Regions from separate parts of the Homo sapiens genome. Here region 1 is linked to region 2. Evidence: fine-mapped expression QTL. A gene starts in region 2. The other region holds a variant in brackets. All regions are shown on one strand. Distances are from middle to middle. Region 1 holds the start of LOC124903899 (a long non-coding RNA gene). Region 2 holds the start of SPNS3 (SPNS lysolipid transporter 3, sphingosine-1-phosphate (putative)).

The links. PIP is the estimated chance that this variant, and not a neighbour inherited with it, causes the effect.
Region 1: its variant is fine-mapped to the expression of SPNS3 in whole blood (TOPMed, PIP 0.94).

Annotation. Positions count from the first base shown.
Region 1 is chr17:4,481,696-4,490,772 of GRCh38, forward strand. It overlaps SPNS3 (SPNS lysolipid transporter 3, sphingosine-1-phosphate (putative)), which reads left to right. Exons shown (of 12, transcript NM_182538.5): 10 at 4,533-4,631; 11 at 4,717-4,888; 12 at 6,111-6,509. The coding sequence ends at 6,199. It overlaps LOC124903899 (a long non-coding RNA gene), which reads right to left and starts at 4,757. Exons shown (of 2, transcript XR_007065583.1): 1 at 4,429-4,757; 2 at 1-894. It overlaps SPNS2-AS1 (SPNS2 antisense RNA 1), which reads right to left. Exons shown (of 3, transcript XR_001752763.2): 3 at 8,178-8,296. RefSeq lists enhancers at 1-33, 4,748-4,827, 7,956-9,077, 8,466-8,966. The variant G/GT (reference allele first, on the strand shown) is at 3,380.
Region 2 is chr17:4,429,422-4,439,761 of GRCh38, forward strand. It overlaps SPNS3 (SPNS lysolipid transporter 3, sphingosine-1-phosphate (putative)), which reads left to right and starts at 4,519. Exons shown (of 12, transcript NM_182538.5): 1 at 4,519-4,745; 2 at 10,237-10,302. The coding sequence starts at 4,547. RefSeq lists enhancers at 4,581-5,235, 9,968-10,340.

The DNA.
Region 1 (9,077 bases), 52 kb after region 2:
AGTGACTGAACCTCTCTGGGTCTTGGTTTGCTCACCTGTCCAGTAGGTAGAGCGGTGGCAACCACCATTGACACCCCAGGCTATAAGGATAGAATGAACTCACACCTGCGTCCTGCAGATTCCTGAGTGGGCGTGTGGGCCCCACTGACTTCCAGATCATCCCTTCCTTGGGACACTGCTCTCTCTCTCTCTTTTTTTTTTTTTTTACTTTTGAGACGGAGTCTCGCACTGTCGCCAGGCTGGAGTGCAGTGGTGCGATCTCAGCTCACTGCGACCTCTGCCTCCTGGGTTCAAGCGATTCTCCTGCCTCAGCCTCCTGAATAGCTGGGACTACAGGCATGCGCCACCACGCCCAGCTAATTTTTGTATTTTTAGTAGAGACGGGGTTCACCATGTTGGCCAGGATGGTCTCGATCTCTTGACCTCATGATCCGCCCCCCTTGGCCTCCCAGAATGCTGGGATTATAGGTGTGAGCCACTGCGCCTGTCCAGGACACTGTTCTCTTTGATGCCATCTCCACAATGGGGAGAATCCAGGTTATCTCTGGAGAAGGGACCTCAGGGGCTCTCCGGTCCGGTGGCTTGGAGACGTCATTGTGCATGAGAGTCAGATTTGAGGGAGCTTGTGACAAACCCAGATTCCAGGCCCTGTGTCCTCTGAGTCTGATTCAGTGGGTCCGTGCTGGGGTCCAGGGACCTGCATTTCTGATGAACTTCCCAAGTGATCCTGCCGTAGCATTCCGTAGAGCACGCTTTGAGAACACTGGTCTCACGCCGCAAGCTCCCCAGTCCATAAATGCTTTGCCAAATTCTAGCCATCCCCTTGTTGACATACGCCTCCAATGGGGAGCTCGTTCTGCATACCTCGGGCAGCCCCTGCCTCTCGGGGGGTTTCTGTTGATGAAAATGATTTGGTTCAGTCACAGCCAAGACCCACCTCTGCCAGCCTCCCCTTGGCCCCGCTGGGCCATAGAGGGGCCCTGCTCCCTGGAGACTGAGATCGTGTCCCCTGAACCCGCATCTCCCCAGGCAGAGCTCCCTGCCTCCCGAAACCTAGTCATGAGGTCTTCAGCTCCCTCCCAGCCCTGCTGTCTGTCCCCGCCCCACTCAGGATGGCCCAGAGCCAGCTCACCCCAATCCCCCTCCAGGCAGGGGACAGTGTAAGCAAAGGTGTGGAGGGAGGATCCCAGGGGCACGATCTCTGGATCCCAACCAGTTGGGGGGCTAGAGCAGAAGGGGAGCTCATTCCCTCTTTCTCAGCCCTGTCCTCTGGGGTCCTGGAATCCAGCCACAGGCTCATCTCCCACCCCTCAGCAGACGTCCCCACAGTTCCCCGGAGAGTTGTCACCTCTGCGTTCTCCCCCTGCCCCAGGTCTCCATGCTTCCCTGCTCAGCCTCTGCCCCCCAGGTAGCTGTCTGCTCACTGGCCTGTCTCACCCTCTCAGGGGCGTCTGGGGGCGAGGCCTGGGTGGGGGTGCAGGAGGCAGGCTGCCTGGTGGCTGCTGCTCCGACTTGCTGCAAGCCCTTGGGTGGCCCTGGTTTCGCCCTCGGCTATAAAGGGAACGGCCCTTCTAAGAAGGGAGAGCCAGAAACAGAGGTGTTTTTGTCTCAGAATAGAGTGAGCCTGGATTTTTGGGAACCCAAAGCCTCTTATTTCTGAAATTACCCCCTGGGCTCTCCAGCTTCTGTGGGCCCAGCCTTGGCTGCTGGCTGCACGGAGACAATGAGGACTTGGAACAGGCTGGGGGAGACCCACCTCTCTCGCCACTGGCAGCAGTGACTGAGCTGGGCCCAGCAGGTTGGGGTTCCTGGGAGAGGAGGAAGGGGCCAGCCTACCTGGACCTAACTGTGGGGGTCCCAGCAGCCCCAGCCTCCATGTGGACCTTTCTGAACATTCAGGTTCCTCCCTCCAGGAAGCCTCACCTGCCTTCCCAGAGCCACCAGTGAGTAATCACATAATTATGGGGTGAGAAGGAAGTCCTTGGGGAAGGTGCAAAGCTGTTGGTCAGTTCCTTCTCAGGCCTGTTGACAGATCCTGGTGATGGCAAGAGGCCCGGTTTCTCTTGCCACCTGTACATGGTGGCTCAGTCCCAGTGACCCTGGGACCAGCGAGTCACTACAGTGCCTCCTGCCACTCTGCCCTGCCCACCACCAAACCCCCTGCATCTGTCCCCTGGGATTCTGGAATCCAGAGATCGTGTCCCTGGGATCCTCCCTCCACACCGTCGCTTACACTGTCCCCTGCCTGGAATGCCTTTCCCCGTCTCTTTGCCAGTTACTCTGCCATCCGTTTACAGGGCTAGTGATGAACTTGTCCTCCTCATCTTTCTCAGATTTCTGAATGTTCTATTACAAATGCATAAATATTGCTAGAAACACCGGCTCCTCCTTGCCCATCACAGCAGAGTGGTCAAAAGGCCAGATCCTAGAGGGAGAAGGCCTGCAATCCTCTCTCAGCCCTGTTATTTCAGGCTGGGTGATGTTGGGCAAGTCACTTGCCCTCCCTGTGGAGGTTTTCCTCATCTGTAAAAATGCAGGTGATCATCATCTCCCTCTCATGGGTTGTTCAAGTTGATATATAAAATGTATACAGCAAGCATTCAATAAATGTTGGCAATTATTATTATTTTATTATTATTTTTTGAGACAGGATCTTGCTCTTTCACTCAGGCTGGAGTATAGTGGTGCCACCTCGGCTCACTAGAACCTCCACCTCCCGGGTTCAAGCGATTCTCCTGCCTCAGCCTCCTGAGTAGCTGGGATTATAGGCACGCGCCACCACACCCAGCTAATTTTTGTATTTTTAGTAGAGATGGGATTTCGCCATGTTGGCCAGGCTGGTCTTGAACTCCTGACCTCAAGTGATCCACCTGCCTCAGTCTCCCAAAGTGCTGGGATTACAGGTGTGAGCCACTGTGCCCAGCTAATATTGATTAACTCAAGGCCTCAGATCATGGACACCTAGGTCTTGGGGATACGGCTCCAGGGTGTAAGCGCCCCTGTGGCTGTCCAGTTGGGTTCATGTGACCATGTGGTCTCTGCTTGAGTCCCCTCCCCCTCCCTCCTTCCATCCCCTGCTGTAGCCCTGGGTTCTGGCAGACTTTCTCCTGGGAATAGTCTCCCAGATGGACCTACTTGAGTTATTTGGTTGGCAAACTTTCAGCTAGTCCCCTCTGTGCCTGGTGTCTTGCAGGGACCCCAAGAGAAATTAAGGGTCTTTGTTGCCCACACAACATAGGGAATAAGGGGTGGTGGACAGAGAAAGGGCCCCTCCCAGTTCTGGGAGACATGCGTTAATTAGGGGTGTGCATAGGAGTTGCGGGAGCTCAGGGCAGGTACCTGAACTCTGAGAGGGCTTCACAGAGGAGATGACCGAAAC[G/GT]TAAGTCCTAAATGACAAATATAGATGCTCCAGCTGGACCAGAGAGTGGAAGGCACGCCAGGCAGAAGGCGCAGCTGAGTTCAAGGGCCTGGAGCATCCTGTCTCAGAGCGTTATTTTGGTCTGATGTCCACACGAAGCCTCCAGGTAGCAGACGAATAACGATAATGAATAAAACTCTCAAGATCAGTACCATTATTACCCCCACTTGGGGATGGAGAGACTGAGGGAAGAAAGGTGAAACAGTTTGCTCAAAGTCACACAGCTAGCGAGTGGGGATCTGGATCGGAACCTGAGTGTGTGACACCAGAGTTCTTTATTTTTTTTATTTTTTTTTTTTTTGAGATGGGATTTTGCTCTTGTTGCCCAGGTTGGATTGCAGTGGTACGATCTCAGCTCACTGCAACCTCCGCCTCCCGTGTTCAAGCAATTCTCCTGCCTCAACCTCCCGAGTAGCTGGGATTACAGGCATGTGCCACCACGCCGGCTAGTTTTTGTATTTTTAGTAGAGACAGGGTTTCACCATGTTGCCAGGCTGGTCTTGACCTCCTGACCTCGGGTGATCCACCCGCCTTGGCCTCCCAAAGTGCTGGGATTACAGACGTGAGCCACCGCGCCTGGCCCAGAGTTCATCTTCTTTATGTTCTCAGCCTTGTCCGTGGAGTCGTGCGGGCTTCTCCAGCAAGGCCGCCTTTGGTCTCTGCCCCAGGGGCCTTGAGGTTCCTGAGAGGACTGAGCCCTCCGTACCACCCCTGCCCAATTGCCTGCACATGCAGACACCTGGCATGCACCCGCTCTTCGCCCTGCCCGCTTGTGCTGCTGCATCCTGGGCCCCTGAGCTGGGACACCCCAGCCTCATTCACTGTGGTCACATGCATGCCTGGTTCCTTCCCAGTTCAAGAGCAAACTCTCAAGAGGGGTGGCCCTGATCAGGGGCCTTGGCACCCCCATCCTGGGGCACTGGGGAAGCTTCAGATGGGCTTGATGTCTTGATGTTCTGGGGTGGGACTTTAGACCTTGGGGACCGTCGACTCCCTCCCATCCCACTCACCTGAATGGCCTGTCACTCCTCCAGGCAGGTCCTTGGCAGGTGGGGAACAGCAGGCAAGGGTGCCCTCACTTGGGGTGCCCCCCTGCTGTGCCTATGTTTTGCAGTCTGTGGTGGTGCCCAGATGCCGGGGGACGGCAGAGGCACTTCAGATCACGGTGGGCCACATCCTGGGAGACGCTGGCAGCCCCTATCTCACAGGACTTGTAAGACGTGTCTGCGTGTGTGGGGTGGGGAGGGTCTGGGGGCCAGGCTGGTGGGCCTGGCAGACTCATCCCTTCTCCTCCGCAGATCTCTAGTGTCCTGCGGGCCAGGCGCCCTGACTCCTATCTGCAGCGCTTCCGCAGCCTGCAGCAGAGCTTCCTGTGCTGCGCCTTTGTCATCGCCCTGGGGGGCGGCTGCTTCCTGCTGACTGCGCTGTACCTGGAGAGAGACGAGACCCGGGCCTGGCAGCCTGTCACAGGTACCCTACCCATTGCACCAGGCCCGGCTCAGGGCCGGCACCCTAGGGACAGACAGCACTGGCCACCCCCTGAATCCCTGGCCAGTTTGTTTGTTCATTCATCCAGAAATGCTTAGTACACCCCTGCTATGTACCAGGGAAGGTTGCAGATGCTGGGGAGTGAAAGAATGAGGCCAAGTCCAGGCCCCTGTAGAAACTGACACTGTAGTTGGTGAAGACAGACCAGAAACAGAAAAGGTTAAAGATATAGCATGTTCAGGGTGACGAGTGCTATGGAGAGGTATAAAGCAGGAAAGGAAGGAGAAAGGGGCCGGGCGCGGTGGCTCACACCTGTAATCCCAGTACTTGGGGAGGCCAAGGCGGGCGGATTACAAGGTTAGGAGTTCAAGACCAGCCTGGGCAACATGGTGAAGCCCTGTCTCTACTAAAAATATAAAAATTAGCCAGGTGCGGTGGCACACACCTGTAGTCCCAGCTACTCAGGAGGCTGAGGCAGGAGAATCACTTGAACCCGGGAGGCGGAGGCTATAGTGAGCTGAGATCTCGCCACTGCACTCCAGCCTGGGCGACAGCAAGACTGTCTCAAAAAAAAAAAAAAAAAAAAAAAAGGGACAGGTAGGTGCAGGCTGCAAGGATCCCCACTGCACAGGCGAAACTAGAGCAAAGATCTGGAGGAAACGAGGGAGTGAGCCGTTCAGCGACCTGGGGAAAGACGCTTCCGGCAGTGGGGACAATCAATGCAAAGGCCCTGCCATGGGAATGCACCTGATATGTTTGAGGATCAGCAAGGAGGCCAGTGTGGCTGCAGCAGAAGCAAGAGGGACAGTGGTAGGGGTGAGGGATACGGGGCCAGAGCAGGCAGTCCTTGTAAAGACAGTGGCTTTTGCTCAGAGTGAGACGGGAGCTGCTGTGGGGCTTCCAGGAGAGGAGCACCGAGGTGGTCTGATTGATGTTGCCAAAGCATCTCCCTGGCTGCTGTGTTGAGAACAGACTGTAGGAGGGTCAGTGTTGAGGCCGAGAGGCATAGCCGACTCCCCTTCCAGGGGAGAGTGGTGCCTAGACCACGCCAGTGGCATTGAAGGTGATGACAAGGGGTTGGATCTGGAATGTATTCTGCATTTGGGACAGAGAGGATTTCCTGACAGCCCGTGCCCAGGCCCAGGCCTGGTCCCAAAGCACCTTCTGCAACCTTCGGGCAGGCTGAGCATCTTTCCTCCTGCAGGGACCCCAGACAGCAATGATGTGGACAGCAACGACCTGGAGAGACAAGGCCTACTTTCGGGCGCTGGCGCCTCTACAGAGGAGCCCTGAGGTCCCTGCCTACACTCGTCCTGCCTGCAAGCCTCCCGTTGGTCCCCACAGCAGCAGTGCCTCGGTTCCTCTTTGGCTGTCCTCGGGGACTCCGGCTGAGGCACATCTGCCACTTTTGAATTCCCGGCTGGAGAGCTGGCAGGACCCTGTGGCTGGGCTGGGAATGGAGCTGTCAGCACTCTGCGTGGGAGGCCTGGGCCTGTGCCTGCATCCCGCTCAAGGCTGCCCCAGCCTGGGGTCTCCAGCCTGGCTGCTGCTGGGCCCTGAATAAAGAGAGGCCAGTACAAAGCCCATGGATTTTGGGCCTGTAGACAGCCGTGTTATTTATAGCCTCTCGTGCCTCTGCTGGAGGGGAAGTGGGTGAGGACGGGATGGGCAGTCCAGGCCAAGGATGCAGGGCTGTCCTGAAGTGGGGAAGCTGGGGGGCTGGCTCAGCATGGGTCTCTAGGGGTCCGCAGCCTGGACCTCCCACTCTGACCCAGCTTCTCCATTCTGCAAAGTCACAGGCACAGGACACCCTCTACGTGATTCCACTCTTTGTTTTGTTTTGTTTTTGAGATGGAGTTTAGCTCTTGTCCAGGCTGGAGTGCAGTGGCGCAATCTCGGCTCATTGCAACCTCCGCCTCCCAGGTTCAAGAGATTCTTCTGCCTCAGCCTCCTAAGTAGCTGGGATTACAGGCATGTGCCACCACGCCCAACTAATTTTTGTATTTTTAGTAGAGACAGGGTTTCACCATGTTGGCCAGGCTGGTCTTGACCTCCTGACCTTAGGTGATCCGCCAGCCTCGGCCTTCCGAAGTGCTGAGATTATAGGCATGAGCCACCGTGCCCAGCCAACTCCACCCTTTGAACAAAACGTGGGGGCTGAATCTTGCTCTTGGAGATGAGTTTCCACTTGGGTGCTGGGGTGGGGATGTGGCTCCAAGTTCCAGGGAACCACGCAGAGGAACCCACGCCTATACAGACACGGGCGCAGCGGCCCCAGAACCCTGCTGAGGACTTGAGTGGCCGTGCAGGGATCCTCCTGGCCTGCCCAGTTCTGTAGCCCCGGTCTTCCCTGGGTCCACGCTCTGACCCCAGCACAGCGTATGGGGAGGGCTGGCTCTGCGGGGCCCACGCTTGCCACTGGGTTCAGAGCAGCTGGGCTCAGCGGGCCCTGTGGGAGATCGACAGCTTCCAGGCGGGCAGCAGTGGGGAGGCTTGTTCTCATGTTCTTTCCGCCTCCCCTGGTGCCCAGCCAGGCGATCACTTGCTCACTCACCGATGGCCACCTTCGCTGTGCCAGGCTGTGCCTGTCTCCCAGCAGCTGCAGGCAGAGCAACGACCGAGACTCCTGCGCAGCCCCTGATGCTTGCTGCTCTGTCCCTGCCTTCTGTGGGGTGCCCCCCAGCCCTCCCTGTTGGCTGCAACAAGCCCCAGGAGCAGGGCCGCACCACAGCCAGCCCTCCCTGCAGGCTAGCCAGGCCCTTGACCGTGACTCAATGCTTGGAGCTTATGCAACAGGCAGCCCTTCAAGTTACAAGGTAAAAGATCTGTGAGGATATTTTGTTTTTCCTGAGAAGGAGGCAGCAACTGGGCAGGAGCCAGGATGCCACGGTCCCTCTCAACATTCACTGGCTGTGTGACCTAGGTGGCTCCCTGACTCCCTGGCTGTGTTTGAGAGGTGTGTTGACATGGCTTTCTAGCCTGGGCCTCATGTGATTAGCACAGGCTGGGTCTAGACCCACAGAAGCCCAGCTCCAGGGTCTGAACCTTCCTCCCAACAGCCCCAGGGAGGACCCCTGCAAGGCGAGGCTCCCGGAAAATGAGTGAGGGCCGCCCAAGGGTCAGAACACTCAGCTGGGCACAGCGGCTCACGCCTGTAATCCCAACACTTTGGGAGGCAGAGGCTGATGTATTGCTTGAGGTCAGGAGTTCAAGACCAGCCTGGGCAACATGGTGAAACCCCGTCTCTACCAAAAATACCAAAACATACCTGGGCGTGGTGGCACGCATCTGTGGTCCCAGCTCTGGGAGGCTGAGGTGGGAGGATCGCTTGATCCTGGGGATGGGGGGTGGAGTTCGTCGTGAAGGGAGATGGCACCACTGCACTCCAACCTGAGTGACACAGTGAGACTTTGTCTTAAAAAAAAAAAAAAAAAAGAACACCAGCTGCCACCTCCCCACCCAGAGTCCAGTAGAGGAAGAGCAAGAACCTCGTTCATGCCAACTCTACAAACATGCATTGGTATCGGCGGGTGCCCATCAGGGTGTCCAGCAGTGAATCAGACTCCAGCCCTGCCCTTGGACCTCGCAGCCCACAGCAGGACAGGCAAGTGTGGCACACCTATGGGCAGAGTAAGGGCTTCCGTGCCCCAGAAGCCTTCAAGGAAGTGGCTTTGGAGTTGGTAACAAGGTGGGGGGCAAAGGGAATTCTAGATGCAGGGGATGGACCCACAAAGAGGGGGAGAGTGGGGCAGAAGATTTGCAGTGAGTCATGGAGGGGTGTGGTATGGCCAGAGAGGAGGGTGCGTGTGTCATTGAGCGGGGAGAGGAGGTGAGAGAGGCCATCTGGGATCAGAGGGGCGTCAGATGTAGGTCCAGGAGCTGGGGCTTTAATCCTATAATCCAGGGTAGTTTCTTATGACTCAAGTGCATTCTGATATTTGGGTTGCTGGGCAGGGCAAGGCGGTACTTCCCAAGGCTGAGCCACACGAGGTGCCCAGCTGGGAGTTTATAGGAAGCTATTGTCTAAAGTGGTTTGGGGCAGAGTGGGAGCTCTGGGGCTGGTGGACGCGGCAAGTGACAGAGACCAATATCTCCTCTGCAGCCAACCCAGACTCCCACCTCCTGCCTCTTTGGGGCCAGTCCTGGTGGGTCGAGGTTACGATAACAGCCT
Region 2 (10,340 bases):
CAGGCTGGAGTGCAGTGGCACAATCTCGGCTCACTGCAACCTCCACCTCCTAGGTTCAAGCCATTGTCCTGCCTCAGCCTTCTGAGTAGCTGGGATTACAAGTGCGGTGCCACCACACCCGGATTATTTTTGTATTTTTAGTAGAGATGGAGTCTCACCTTGTTGATCAGCCTGGTCTCAAACTCTTGACCTCAGGTGATCTGTCTGCCTCGGGCTCCCAAAGTGCTGGGATTACAGGCGTGAGCCACTGTGACCAGCCAGCATAATGTTTTTAAGGTCTATCCGTGTTGTAGCATGAATCAGTACTTCCTTCCTCTTTATGACTGGATACTATTCCATTGTATGATTATGCCACATTTTCTTGACCCATTTATCAGATGGGCGTTTAAGCTGTTTCCACCTTTTGGCTGTTATGAACAGTGCTGCCATGAACATTTATGTACAAGTATTTGTTTGAGTCTTTGTTTTCTTTTCTTTTCTTTTTTTTTTTTCTTTTTTTGAGACAGAGTGACAAAGTTGCTCTGTTGCCCCAGCTAGAGTACAGTGGTCCCATCTTGGCTCATTGCAACCTCTCCCTCCAGGGTTCAAACAATTGTCATGCCTCAGCCTCCCGAGTAGCTGGGACTACAGGTGTGTGCCACTATGCCCAGCTAAATTTTTTGGATTTTTTAGTAAAGACGGGGTTTCACCATGTTGGTCAGGTTGATTTCAAACTCTTTTTTTTTTTTTTTTGAGATGGAATCTCACCCTGTCGCCCAGGCTGGAGTGCAGTGGCGTGATCTTGGCTCACTGTAAGCTCCGCCTCCTGGGTTCATGCCATTCTCATGCCTCAGCCTCCTGAGCAGCTGGGACTACAGGCGCCCGCCACCATGCGCAGCTAACTTTTTGTATTTTTAATAGAGGTAGGGTTTCACCGTGTTAGCCAGGATGGTCTCGATCTCCTGACCTTGTGATCTACCTGCCTCAGCCTCCCAAAGTGCTGGGATTACAGGTGTGAGCCACCGCGCCCAGCCTTGAACTCTTGACCTCAAGCGATCCGTCTGCCTTGGCCTCCCAAAGTGCTGAGATTAGAGGCTCAAAATAGTCTTTGTTTTCAATTCTTTTTTTTTTTTTTTTTTTTTTTGAGACAGAGTCTTACTCTGTCACCCGGGCTGGAGTGCAGTGGTGCAATGTAGGCTCACTGCAATCTCTGCCACCTGGGTTCAAGTGATTCTCCTGCCTCAGCCTCCCGAGTAGCTGGGATTACAGGCGCCTGCCACCGTGCCTGGATAATTTTTTTGTAGTTTTAGTAGAGACAGGGTTTCACTGTCTTCGCCAGGCTGGTCTTGAACTCCTGACATCGTGATCCACCTGCCTCGGCCTCCCAAAGTGCTGGGATTACAGGTGTGAGCCACTGTACCTGGCCTGTTTTCAGTTCTTTTGGATATATACCTAGGATTGGAATTGCAGGGCCATATGGTAATTTTATGTTTAACCTTTGGAGGAACTGCCAAACTTTGTTCCACTGCGGCTGCCTTACTCCACATTCCCAGCAATGCATGAGGCTTTCAATCTCTCCACCAACATTTGTTATTTCCTCTCTCTCTCTTTTTAAAATTATAGCCGTCTTAGTGGGTACGAACTGATATCTTATGGTGGCTTCAATCTGCCATTTTCCTAATGACTTGTGATGTTGAACATTTTTCTTTCTTTTTTTTTTTTTCCCCCGAGATGAAGTCTCGCTCTGTCACCCAGGCTAGAGTGCAGTGGTGTGATCTCAGCTCACCGCAACCTCTGCCACCCGGGTTCAAGCAGTTCTCCTGCCTCAGCCTCCTAAATAGCTGGGATTACAGACACATGCCACCACGCCCAGCTAATTTTTGTATTTTTAGTAGATATGGAGTTTCACTATGTTGGCCAGGCTGGTCTCGAACTCCCAACCTTGTGATCCACCCACCTGAGCCTCCTAAAGTGCTGGGATTGCAGGCGTGAGCTACTGTGCCCAGCCTGAACATCTTTTTATGTGCTTGTCGGTCACCTGTATATCTTCAGAGAAATGTCTGTTCAACTCCTTGGCCCATTTTTGTCCCCCTGATGTTTTTTTTCTTTAGAGATGGGATCTCACTCTGTTGCCCAAGCTGGAGTACAGTGGCATGATTATAGCTCACTGTGGCCTCAACCTCCCAGGCTTAAGTGATCCTTCCACCTCAGCCTCCAGAGTAGCTGGGACTACAGGTCCATGCCACTATGCCCGGCTCTTCACCCATTTTTAAATTGGTTTGTCATTTTATGCTTTAACTTTTTGTTTAGATATAATTTATAACTTATAGAAAGTTTATCATATAGCGTAAAGAAACTCTTATAATCTTTACCCAGATTCATCTATTATTAATATTTGCCCCATTTGTTTTCTTACTATACATATCTAATATTTTTTCCTGAACCGTTTGAGAATGAGTGGCATAAATCATGGCCCTGTACCTCTAGATACTTCAGATAAGGATATTTACTTATTTACTTACATAACCATAGTTCACAGATGCTGATATGCTATTTCTTCCTGATCCAGTTTTATCAGTTGATCCAGTACAGGAGCGAGGTTGGGATCCTGTACTGCTCTTAATTGTCTTATTGTCTTGTCTCTCTTTTTTTTTTTTTTTTTTTTGAGACGGAGTCTTGTTCTGTCACCCAGGCTAGAGTGCAGTGGCACGATCTTGGCTCACTGCAACCTCTGCCTCCCGGGTTCACATGATTCTCCTGCCTCAGCCTCCTGAGTAGCTGGGACTACAGGTGCACACCACCACACCCAGCTACTTTTTTGTGTATTTTTAGTAGAGACAGGGTTTCACTATGTTGGCCAGACTGGTCTCGAACTCCTGACCTCGTGATCCGCCCGCCTGGGCCTCCCAAAGTGCTGGGATTACAGGCATGAGCCACCGCGCCTGGCCTATCTTGTCTCTTTGTTGCTTTTAATCCAAAACAGTCCCTCAGAATATTTTTTTTTTTTCGAGACAGAGTTTTGCTCTTGTTGCCCAGGCTGGAGTGTAATGGCGTGATCTTGGCTCACCACAACCTGTGCCTCCCGGGTTCAAGCAATTCTCCTGCCTCAGCCTCCCGAGTAGCTGAGATTACAGGCACCTGCCACCATGCCTAGTTAGTTTTGTATTTTTAGTAGAGACGGGGTTTCTCCACATTGGTCAGGCTGATCTTGAACTCCCGACCTCAGGTGATCCACCTGCCTCGGCCTCCCAAAGTGCTGGGATAACAAGCGTGAGCCACCACGCCTAGCTCCCTCAGTCTTTCTTAGTCTTTCATGACTCTGACATTTTTCAATATACAGTCCCTTTAAAGAAATAGTGTTTCTCAATTTGGGCTTGTCTGATGTTTTTTCATTTTAAAAATTAAAAAAAAAATTTTTTTTTTTGAGTTGGGGTCTTGCTTTGTCACCCAGCCTGGAGTGCAGTGGCACGAACATGGCTCACTGCAGCCTCGACTTCCCAGGCTAAGGCGATCCTTCCTACCTCAGCCTCCCAAGTAGCTGGGACTGTGGACGCACACCACTACACCCGGCTATTTTTTTTTAAAATTTTTTATTTTTTTGGTATTTTTGTAGCAATGGGGTTTCACCATGTTGCCCAGGCTGGTCACAAACTTCTGGGCTTGGATGATCCTCCTGTCTTGGCCTCCCAGTGTTAGGATTACAGGTGCGAGCCACCGCGTCTGGCTGATGTCTTCTCATGATGAGATTCCGGTTGTGCCTTCCTGGCTGGAATGCCACATAGATGATGCTGTGACCTGCGAAGACCTTCACATCTGGAGGCACACGACACCCTCCTGCCTCTCACAGGTGATTTATTTTAACCCCTTGGTCAAGATGTCTGATTCCTCTACTGTATAGTTACTCTTTTTCCTTTTGTTACTAATAAGCAATCTATCAAGAGATGCTTCGTGACCGTGCTGACACCCTCCCCCCTCACTGAAGTCTTCCCCCCAGATTTAGCCCCCACTGATGAGTTTTGCACACAGGCTGTCTTCTTGTAGGCAGCCCCCTCTGCTACCTTTGTTTTTCCGGGAAGGACCTTAGATCCTGGGTAGGTGCTCATCCTGCCTGGCAGTCGAGTGCAATGCTGCTGTCCTGGCCAATGCCCAGCCTTCCTCATTTGCCCCGGCTTCAAGGCATTGGTTCACAGTCCCGTACGGGCAGCTAGACCATCTCACAGCAAGCAGCACTCTGGGAGGCTCATCTCATTTCCTGCCCTGGAAGCTTCCCTTCCTCACTGCAGCCACTGAAGCTGCAGGCTAGATCAAGGGGACCACAGAGTTGTCCAGTCCCCAGGGTGGGGGTGCCAGGAGCCCTTGTCCTCCGTAGCAGGTCTCAGAGGCTGACGATGGGGAAATCGCACTGGTGAAGCTGCCGTGGGGTCAGGAGGAACCTGCGATAAGACGCCCAACAGTTAGGGCAGGTGCTTTGAGGTTTGGAGCCTGGGACCCCACAGGAAGTGACTTCGTGCTGAGCTAATGTTGCTTCATCCTGGCGCCAGTCTCAGGCCAAGAGCTGCAGGCTGGCATGGCTGGGGGGATGTCAGCGGAGTGCCCTGAGCCTGGGCCAGGAGGTCTGCAGGGCCAGTCCCCAGGGCCAGGCAGGCAGTGTCCCCCTCCCATCACGCCCACCTCCTGGAGCCTGCCCCCGTGGAGGGCCTACGTGGCTGCCGCCGTCCTCTGCTACATCAACCTCCTGAATTACATGAACTGGTTCATCATTGCAGGTGAGGAGGGGATGGCTACCCTGGGCAGTACCTGCTGCTGTGCCCACCAGCCAGGGGCTGCAGATCCATGGTGGCCTTCCAGCCATCACCCATCTTTCTGCTCCTGGGCCCATCTCTGGTGTTCTCACCTCTAGAGGTGGTTTTCAGCTGTGCTCGAATCGGGGAGGACCAACTGATGTTCCCAATCCAGCCTCAACTAAGAAGGGACACAGGCTGGGCATGGTGGCTCCCGCTTGTAATTCCAGCACTTTGGGAGGCTGAGGCAGGAAGATTGCTTGAGCCCAGGAGTTTGAGACCAACCTGGACAACATAGTGAGACTCTGTCTCTATTTATTTATTTTTTTTTTTGAGACAGAGTCTCGCTCTGTCGCCCAGGCTGGAGTGTAGTGGCGCAATCTCAGCTCACTGCAACCTCTGTCTCCCAGGTTCAAGTGATTCTCCTGCCTCAGCCTCCCGAGTAGCTGGGATTACAGGCGTGCACCACCACATCCGGCTAATTTTTGTATTTTGAGTAGAGGAGGAGTAGGGACGGGGTTTTACCATGCTAGTCAGGCTGGTCTCGAACTCCTGACCTCAGGTGATCCACCCGCCTCGGCCTCCCAAAGTGCTGGGATTACAGGCATGAGCCACCGTGCCCGGCCTTTTTTTTTTTTCTTGAGACAGAGTCTCAATCTGTTGCCCAGGCTGGAGTGCAGTGGCGCGATCTCGGCTCACTGCAACTTCTGCCTCCCAGGTTCAAGCGATTCCTATCTCAGCCTCCCGAGTAGCTGGGACTACAGGCGCATACCACCATGCCAGGCTAGTTTTTGTATTTTTAGTAGAGACGGGGTTTTGCCGTGTATGCCAGGCTGTCTCGAACTCCAGACCTCAGGTGATCCGCCTGCCTCGGCCTCCCAAAGTGTTGGGATTATAGGCATGAGCCCCTGCGCCCAGCCGAAACTCTGTCTCTATTTAAAAAATTAAAAATATTTTAGGGCTGGGTGCGGTGGCTCAGGCCTGTAATCCCAGCACTGTGGGAGGCCAAGGTGGGCGGATCACTTGAAGTGAGGACTTTGTGACCAGCCTGGGCAACATGGTGAAACCCCGTCTCTACTAAAACTACAAAAATTAGCCGAGCATGGTAGCGGGCACCTGTAATCTCAGCTACTGGGGAGGCTGAGGCAGAGAATTGCTTGAACCTGGGAGGTGGATGTTGCAGTGAGCCGAGATCCCACCATTGAGCCAAGATCCCACCATTGCACTCCAGTCTGGGCGACAGAGCAAGGCTCTGTCTCAAAAAAAAAAAAATAAAAAATAAAAAATAAATAAATAAATAAATATTTTTTAAAAATTAAGGGAGGGCACAGTGGGGGTGGGGCCAGAGACATAATGAGGGGTGGGTGGGTGAGGACAGCAGGCAGGACTTCCAGGCAGAGGCCCCCAGGTTCTAGGTGGAGGACAGGGTAGCCTGGGCCAGACAAGAATAGCTCCTGCTGGCTGTGTTTCTAGGACAACAGGCTGCTCGCAAACCTCACACGTCCTGCCTTCCTTCTTGCAGGCTTCAGGGCTCAACCTGCTCTGTCTTCTGTCACTCATTCACTAACTCACTCACTCATTCATTCATTCAAGACTGATCAGGGGCCAGGCGTGGTGGCTCACGCCTGTAATCCCAGCTACTCGGGAGGCTGAGGCAGGACAGTCGCTTGAACCCGGGAGGCGGAGGTTGCGGTGAGCTGAGATCGTGCCACTGCACTCCAGCCTGGGCGACAGAGCGAGACTCCGTCTCAAACAAAGACAACAACAATAACAACAGCTGATTGAGGCTCCACTTGCTCTTCTCTTCTTGTCATTCATTCATTCAAGACCGGCTGAGCACTAACTGTGGGCAGGACCCCCTGCTGGCTGCTGTGGACCCAGGGAGGAAATCGGACTTGGAGTTCCTGAACTCAGGAATGACCATCTCATGGGGCAGAGATAGAGGCTGGTTGATGGCAGTCCTGCGAGGCGGAGAGGTGCGGCCAGACAAGGGGGAGGCACAGGCCGGGCTGGGAGCTCAGGAGGGTGCCTGCAGCTGCCAGGCATCTCTGAGACCTGGGCATCGATCTGTCAGTTACCAGCTCAGCATGCCAGAGAGTGGCTATGGAATCATGAAACTCTAGGGGCTGCAGAGCCATCCCCAGACCTGGTCATCGTCTTTGAGGAGCTCAGAGGTCAGGAGCTTCTCCTCACATGAGGTCAGGAGTTCGAGACCAGCCTGGGTAACATAGAAAAACCTTGTCTCTACAAAAAATTTAAAAAATTAGCCAGGGACAGTGATGTCTTCAGCCTCTCGGGAGGCTGAAGCAGGAGGATTGCTTGAGGCTGAAGCAGGAGGATTGCTTGAGGCTGAAGCGGGAGGATTGCTTGAGGCTGCGGTGAGCCCTCTAGCCTGAGTGACAGAGCAAGATCTTATCTAAACCCCTAAAGACAAAAAGCCAAAACAAAGCAAAACAAAACACATGAAACAAAAAACCCCAAAGGGGTGTATGGGGTGAGAACAGAGCTTCTTGGGTGCCAGACTGGGAGCTTGGACTTTCTGCCTTGGGCAATGGGGAGCCATATAATTGGATTTGAGGCCCTGATGGAGGCAAAATGAGCCAGGGAGTCAGTTCAGAGGCTGCTGTAGTGGATCAGGCCAAAGCTGAGGAGGCCTGAGTTGGAGTGTGGGCCAAGGGCACGCAAAGGCGAGAAGGGGCAAGAGGTGGATGGGAGCCAGGAATCACCAGTGTGGAGCTCTCTGAACCCACGAGCCTGGGGACCCGCTATCTCTGCCGCTAGCCCTGGAGGTCCCTGGCTGGGCCCTAAGACCCTGAGTCTTGCCTGTCCAGGTCCCTTCTCCATCAGCACTTCCTCTGTATGTGCAAGAAAGGGGGCTGTGGTTACTGTGGGGATAGAGACCTGGAGAAGTGAAACCGTGCTGAGCATCTGGGAACTGGTGGGGGTAAACAGCTAAAATGTTCTTGCAGGAAACAGCTCTTATGGGGCCAGGGTGGTAGGCTACAGATGAAAGCAAGGGTGGGTGCACGCTTGGCTCTGGATCACCTCTAGAGTACCATGGGGCTGAGAGGAGCCCAGGAGGAGAGAAAACAAGGGGATGAGTCCTCATTCCTGAAAATGGAAGATGGGCACAATTTGGAGCATTTTCGTTTAGCTATTTATTTTGCTTACCTGTGTTGTCTCCTTTTTTTCTTTCCAATGACTGTCTTCTTTGTGTATTTAAAATAATAAAAGGGGGACTTTGAGAGGCCGAGGCAGGTGGATCACCTGAGATCAGGAGTTCGAGACCAGACTGGCCAAAATGGTGAAACCCCGTCTCTACTAAAAATACAAAAATTAGCCAGGCGTGATGGCGGGCACCTGTAATCCCAGCTACTTGGGAGGCCGAGGCAGGAAAATTGCCTGAACCCAGGAGGCAGAGGTTGCAGTGAGCTGAGATCGTGTCACTGCACTTCAGCCTGGATGAAATAGTGAGATTCAGTCTCAAAAATAAATAAATAAAATAAAAATAAAAAACAAAATATTAAAAGGGGAAAAAGACATAACAGTTTGTATGCCAGGTTGCAGTGGCAATTGGGGACAAATTAAATGTCTAAACAAAGATTTCTTTTTTTTTTTTTTTGGAGACGGAGTCTCACTCTGTCGCCCAGGCTGGAGTGCAGTGGCATGATCTCAGCTCACTGCAACCTCCGCCTCCCAGGTTCAAGCGATTCTCCTGCCTCAGCCTCCTGAGTAGCTGGGACTACAGGCCTGTGCCACAACATCTGGCTAATTTTTTGTATTTTTAAATAGAGATGGGATTTCACTGTGTTAGCCACGATGGTCTTGATCTCCTGACCTCAAGATCTGCCGGCCTCGGCCTCCCAAAGTGCTGGGATTACAGGCGTGAGCCACCACGTCCCTCCCTGAGCAAGGATTTTTTGCTTTGCTCCTCTGATCCCTTGATCTTCATGTGCATGGGGCAGCTCTTAGAGGTGTGCACGCAGGGCTTTCTTGGTGTGGGTGTTTCTGCGGGGACCCACTTGGGGGCTTCTGCTCCCCTTCTGTGGTTCTGGGTGTGTGGACAGGCTGCCTCTGGCTGAGATTTGAGCCCCAGCTCCCCCAGCTTCAGACGGGCAACCTTGGGCCGCTAAAGCCTCTGTTTCCTCATCTGTAGAATGGGGGCAATGACAGTCCCCCTCTTTTAGGATGACAACTGCGAGTGTACAGCTCAGGGCCTGGCTGTCAGTCACCTCCTGACTGATGAAAGTGAGGATTGTTCTTCTTCATAATAATGACAGGGCCAGAGCCGCATGGCTCACGTGAGCAGGTGCTGCAGACCCCGACCCTTTCTAGGACACCAAGAGGCTATCAGGAAACAGACCCTGGTGTCTGGGAGACCCACTTTCTCTCTCTACATTAGGCTGGGTGCCCACTGCTGTGCCTCTGGAAGAACAGGCTTGTGTGTGCACATGCGTGCAAGCCAGGACACGTTCGTCTTTTTATGTACATGTTCACCTATGCATTTCCAGTGTTTGTGCATGAGCGAGGCCACTGTGCTGTACAGCTCCAGGGACTTCCGTTTACACAGTGGCCTAAGTAAAGGGCTGTGCACTGAGCAGCGACAGGGGGCTGCCGCTCCTCTGACTGCAGTGTGGATGGCAGCCCTGAGCCTGTGCATACGCGGGCAGGCCTCTGGGTGCACATCTCACTGCACATGTGTCTGTGTGTCTGGGTGTATGAGTGAGGCTGGGTGTACATGTCTGTGAGAGTGAGTTCCTGTGTGTGTGTGTGTGTGTGTGTGTATTTGTGCCTCTGCAGGTGTGTTTCTCTGGGAATGCCTGTTTGTATCTATATCTGTGTTCCCATATGAAGAGGAGGGAAGGAGCCGTGTGGCTGCGTGCTTATGTGTCAGTGTGTGTGTGTGAATGTCTGTGCCTTTGGGATGCTTCTTTCTTTCTTTTTCTTTCTTTTTTTTTTGAGATGGAGCGTGGCTCTTGTTGCCCAGGCTGGAGTGCAATGGCGCGATCTCGGCTCACTGCAACCTCCACCTCCCAGGCTCAAGCAATTCTCCTGCCTCAGCCTCCCGAGTAGCTGGGATTACAGGCGCCCGCCACCACGTCCGGCTAATTTTTTGTACTTTTAGTAGAGACGGGGTTTCACCACGTTGACCATGGCTGGTCTCAAGCTCCTGACCTCAGGTGATCCGCCAGCCTTGGCCTCCCAAACTGCTGAGATTACAGGCGTGAGCCACCGTGCCCAGCCAAGGGATGCTTGTTTCTTTGAGTGTTTGAAATGCACACGTTTCTCTGTGTGCCTGCTCTTGTGTGTGTGGTTGTACAGCTGTATGGGAGAGAGGGGGAGAGAACAGTGGGCTTGGGTGCCATGCCCTGTGCTGTGCTGGTCAGCTGTGGCCCTGTGCCAAACCTGGAGCAGCTGCCTTTAGAGGCCAGGAGGGCTACTTCCCGTTTCCTGAGCACTGTCCCTCTGTCTGCAGGAGTGCTGCTGGATATACAGGAGGTTTTCCAGATCAGTGACAACCATGCTGGTTTGCTTCAGACTGGTAAGGAGGAGCCCTGGCTCTGGAGCCGGGGCCCTGGG